Linked DNA regions of Homo sapiens: region 1 is linked to region 2. The links come from fine-mapping of genetic effects on gene expression. A gene starts in region 2. The other region holds a variant in brackets. All regions are shown on one strand. Distances are between the middles of the regions. Region 1 holds the start of ZNF304 (zinc finger protein 304). Region 2 holds the start of ZNF548 (zinc finger protein 548).

Region 1 (2,813 bases), 38 kb after region 2:
TCTCAGTGTCCAGTTTCAACTTTCTTACTGAATAACAGCATTACCACCATGATTTGAAGATACCCCATCCCACTCCACACACTGGCCACCATTTTTTTCAACTTCTTCAACAGAACCCTTCCCCAGAACTAAAAACCTGTGTGTTTTCCTGAGGCCTCAACTAAGATGACAACTGAGACCTCTTAACCTAAACATGACCAAAGCCTAACTCCTGATATAACCACTAAAAATCATACCTGCTGCCAACTTCTCTATCTCAGTTGATGGCATTTTCATAATTTTACCAGCTACAGCAAAAACAAACCAACCTTAGGGTCATCCACGACTCTCCTCTCTTTCACCTTTCGCATCAAAAAATCCAATCACCCTACTTTAAAAAACAGAAAATTTACCAACTTCTCTCACCTCCACAGCCACACCTCTAGACCAGACACCATCAACACTACTGCAGTAGCTGCTCCCTCATGCTCACAGTCTGTTCTCAACCTGAAAGCCAGAGAGAGCATGTTAAAATCTGAGTCAGATCATCTCCCTCCTCTGCTCCAAATCTCCCACGACTTTTACCACACTCAAGACACCTCGGCCAGCCATTCCTGCCTAACTCCTTCCTCTGATACCTGTTTCCAACAAAGGTAATTAAGACCTGAGATTCCCTGAGCGCTCCAAACTCAATCCTACAAGCATTTGAGCGTACCTGTTCCTAGGTCTGATATACTTTTGCAGTACTCATCCCATTGGTCGCCAGGTGGGGACTTCTCCACATAACTCCATACAACTCATGGCCTGGATTCAGGACACTAAACTAGAAATGACCTCCATTCACTGCCCCCTGTCTCAAGTGAAGACAGTCATGTGAAGAATCCCAGGATATCATCACTATGTCTCATCAGAGAATCTGGTCAGCCTTCCTTATAAAATACATACAAAACCCAAAACCCATACATTCTCTAACCTCTGCTGCCACCACTCTGGCCCAGACCATCAACGCTCACCTGGACTATTTCAGTAGACTTCATCTTGATCTCCCCGTCTACCCTATAATCCCTAGTCTACCCACTCTGCAGCCAGAGGGAGCCTTTTAAGAACTGCGTCAGAGGACCTCCCTTCTCTGTACCAAACCTTGCATGACTCCCAGCACCCTCAGAAGAGAGGACCAGCTCCTCGGGCGGCCATTCCAGGCCTACCTCTGACCCCCTAGTCCCTGTTCTCACCAGGCACAGAGAGTT[C/T]CCGGAACTCCCCAAACTCATTCTCCTCTCCATGCATGCATTTGTACGAACTGCCCCTGCGCCTTCGAGTCCGTTCCACACCTTATGCCACTGATGAGGGGAGCGGAACCCCTCCACATAATGCGACGGAGTGAGCACCCTGAAGTGCGCGATGAGAGCGAACATCCCAGGACACACCAACCAGGCCGGGGTGCGCTTGAGGGATGCCCCCACTCACCTGAACCCGGTCCATCAGCACCGCCGCTGCCATGAGAAGCGGATGAACAGTCTGTGCCCTGTGGGCTCAGCCGAAACCCCACGCCTCCACCGCGCTGGACGCCCTCGGGCTGAGTGTAGCACTCCAAGTCTCAATCTACCCGGTGTAAAAACGCTCACAAGACTAAGGCGGCTGCTTCTGGGGGAGACAAGGACAAGAGGACGTGTGTGGAGGCCTCGGTAAGAGCCCAGCCCCGGCAGACACCTCCGCGAGAGGCCGCCCGTCCCACGACAGGGGTCATGGATTGTAACAAAAGCGCGAAGGAAGGTCCTGCAGTCTTCACTGTCTTTCTTTGCTAGGTTCCACGAGAGCCGCGTAGAAAGCCGACCCGATCTCTAGAACTCAGCCTTCACAACCAGAATGCACGGACCGGGCATAGGAAAAATACGTCACGACGGCGACGCCAGAAGTCTCGCCCCTGCAGCCCAGAGCAGCAGGAAACGCCCAGTTTCTGGGCTGTCATTGGCTGCACGCCGGCTAACAATGAGCTGGGCACAGATTTCTGGGTAACGTAGTTTGTACCCTGCATCCAACCAGGCAACGAGCGCCTTTCGGGTTCTCCCGGATGTCTGCCAAGAGGCGTCGTGCAGGGAGGGGGAGAAAAGACTGGGAAAACGATATCTCGGAGGCCACAGCTGCTTTTAAAGGGTATGCACCCTGATTTCCATGGCCACCTGGGACAATGCCACGCCACTGAAGTCGCCAGCAAGGGACCCATTCTTCAATCCTGCTTCTGAGGCCCTGGGAAACCTGCTTCACCTCTCTCAGATTTGGGGATTGAAACGTATTAATAAATTGAACGTTGTCTGTATTTCGTTTGTGGGCCTTTTTGTAAAACATTGAATGTCCTTCTAATTTTTCTAACATATAAAGAAAAGAGATGTAATTAGCTACCTTTCTGCTGGCTGTACAGGAAGCATGGTGCCCGTATCTGCTTCTGGTGAGGCCACAGGGAACTTTTATTCATGGCGAAAAGTGAAGGAGGAACTTACATGTAACATGACGAAAACATGAGCCTCTTCTAATTCATTGCTTCCCAATTTGATATGTAGTTTTACAGCATCAGCTTCACTATGAACTTAAAAAACCTGTGAATTCTTGGACCCAACCTATACCTTCTGATAAACTCTGGGGATGGGACCCTAGCTGAAGTTCAAGAACTGGAGGTCTTTTAAAGTCATTAGCCAAAAACAAAACAAAACAAAAACAAACAAAAAAAAATCAGTAAGATGAAAAACACTACAACCAACCTCATTAGGAATATGGGAAGTGAGGTAAAAAGTACTTAACACCAGGCCTGGCACATCGTGCTAAATACATACAAGCTGTTA
Region 2 (2,813 bases):
AATAATGTGTACACATGGACAAAGAGTGTGGAATGACAAACATTGGAGACTCCAAACAGGTAGAAGGATGAGACGAAGATGAGTGATGAAAAATTACTTAATGGATACAATGTACATTATTCAGGCGATGGATACATTAAAAGCCCAGACTTGACCACTATGCAAATATATCCATATAACAAAACTGCACTTGACTCCTTAAATTTATGCAAACAAACAAACAAAAAAAACCCGAGACCGACCTACTCAATCTGATCCTCAGACCATTCTCTGGCCCAGTCCAAGCCCTCCATCCGTCTGGTATCGCCAACCCAATCCCCTTCCTCAGACTCCACACCTTTATGTCCACCTGTCTGTGTGACATATCCATCTTGAGACATTTGAGAATCACCATGTCCAAAATCCAACCTGTGATCTTCTCCCGGAAATCTGCTCTTTATGCTGACTTCCCCAACTCCATTCTTCCAAACGTTCAAACAGAAAACAAAAAACAAAACAAACACTTGAAACGGTTCTTCACTGCCTTTGTTCAGACATAACTGAAGCACCAGGAAAACCTACGGGCCCTATCTTTCAGGCCTATGAAGAATCTCATCACATCTCCCTCTACTGTCACTGGTCCAGCCCCAACCATAATTCTCCTGGGTCTACTGCAGTGGCCTCAGGGCCTTTTCGCGTCTCCCTGTGTCCATTCCTAACCTGGTTTTCCTAACTTGAAACTTCGAACTCTGGACCTGCCCCCTCCAACTGTCCCTCCCTTGACAACCTTCCATGGTTACTGGCTGCTCAGGTTGCCATTCCAAGCGAGAATTCACAAAACCCTCTCTTTCCCGCAGAAACAACACACACCCCTGACGCCCCAACACAGCCCACTCGGCAGCGCCTCCATGCTCTGAACCTGAGGTCCCTAACGGGAGCTCTGAGGCTGCATCAAATCGGCTGATACGGGGACCCCACACAGGAACGCCCCTCTCTTCGGGACAAGGGGCCTGACCTGCAGGGCCCCTTCAGGGGGCTTCAGCACTGGGAGGACCGGTCGGGCGGGGGAGCCTGGGACGGGACACCCACCTCAGTCAGGTTCATCAGCAAGGCCTCCGCCAGCCCAGCCAGGGAAGAGCGGGGCGGGAGCGACAAAGGCAAGACAAGGACGCCACTGTCCCCAGCGCTTGTCAGTTGACTCACTCCCGCCTCTCCGTGGTGGGAACCGAGCCGCTTCTCGCGCTTTTCCGTTCCGTCACTTCGGTGACGTCAGACAGAGCCATAGGCCGAAGTTGGTGAAACACCACACAGAACCAAAACGACCACCACCAGGAGGACGGCGGAAGTCCCGCCCTCCGACGGTGCGCACGCACGCAAACGTCCCCTTCTAAGCCTTTATTGGGTAAGTCGTGCCGCCGAGAGCTGCAGTGTCTTCTGGGTTATGAAGTTTCGACACCGCTTCCGGACTTGTCTTAGAGCGTTGATCAGTCCTTATATGGCAGATAAAGGCCCAGTGGCACTGTCAGGGGAGCTGGGAAACGGAGTCCCCGACTCCAAAGACAGGAGGGGGCTTGGCTTGCTCTTAAAGGCAACATACGGTATTTTTTTGGATTGTAGTATAGGATATTTACAGAAATGTTAGCAACTTATTACTTAAGACTCTATTAAGCACAGCTAATTCCCAATAACTACAGGTCCAAAGAGACACCCCATACCATAAAGGCAGTCTGCCTCTACTCATGCCTGCCAGCCATATTATTGCTTTTCAAATACACATACAGTTACGCTTTGGCGTCTGTTTAGTAAGCTTCAATATGTTTGGTCCAGAAGAAGAAAGAAAGACTACGCAGTTAGGGCTATGGACTGGAATTTGTAGGAAGGATGACAGGAGACGCTGAAGTAGGTTGAAAGGGTGAAGCTATGCCTCTGGATCAAAGAGAATACATCTTACCTGACTGTAGAGTCAGCGATTGTGTTCCTACGAAGGGTGCAACGCTTTTATTCTAATAATACTTACTACTTCATATCTGAGATATTTTCCATTTATTTTAAGAATCACAATCCTATCTGAAAATGAGAGTGACGACCAAAATGAGTGATTGAGGCATAAGTCACAAATCATGGAGGATTACTGGACCAGCCTAAGGGCACATCCAGAAAAATGTAAGTCACAGAAGCATCTGTGGCTGGTTTTTCCAAAGAGGTTCTTAGGAGGTTTAGTATTTATTATACATTTTCCTTAAAAAGGAAGAGGGGTTGGCAGTGAGACAAATGATTACAGACATGTGAAACTTTAGTTAGTGCCCAGTAAATCTACATTTTACATAAGATAGAGTAAACACGTGAGGGGAAAAGGGAATAAAGAAGATGTCTCAGAGAAGGATGAAGGAATGAATAATCTCATCTTCTCTCTGTTCTGTACCTTGGAAGATAAGCTAGTAGTCTTCTGAAAAGGTTGATTTCTATTTAGCCCTTAGGGAAGAAAACCTAATGATTGTAGTGTGGTAGGGGATATAATGAGGTGTGTCTGATTTCCCGTTCCTCTATAGTGGTGAATTCAGCTTCCAAAGTTATTCTAGGGTTCTCATGGTCAAGAGGGCATCCATTCAGTCAGTTAGGGGGTGCTTAGAATTTTATTTTTATTTCTCAAGAGCAGCTGATACATGCCATTTCTGGACAACATTGTCTACCGTTTTCATAGTTGAAGCATATGCACATCTTATCCTCAAAAAAGGTGTGGAATTCCATGATGTTATCTTCTTCCTCAGAAGTGATTTAAAATTTCACCTGTGTTTACAACTGTATTTGCACAGGGAGTCGAAATGTGAAAAACA

The links. PIP is the estimated chance that this variant, and not a neighbour inherited with it, causes the effect.
Region 1: its variant is fine-mapped to the expression of ZNF548 in lung (GTEx, PIP above 0.99).

What each region holds. Positions count from the first base shown.
Region 1 is chr19:57,350,328-57,353,140 of GRCh38, reverse strand. ZNF304 (zinc finger protein 304) reads right to left here and starts at 1,870. Exons shown (of 3, transcript NM_020657.4): 1 at 1,444-1,870. The coding sequence starts at 1,476. RefSeq lists enhancers at 1,568-1,637, 976-1,834, 1,788-1,877, 1,835-2,694. The variant C/T (reference allele first, on the strand shown) is at 1,227.
Region 2 is chr19:57,388,370-57,391,182 of GRCh38, reverse strand. ZNF548 (zinc finger protein 548) reads right to left here and starts at 1,329. Exons shown (of 4, transcript NM_001172773.2): 1 at 1,069-1,329. The coding sequence starts at 1,083. RefSeq lists enhancers at 1,072-1,551, 1,692-1,771.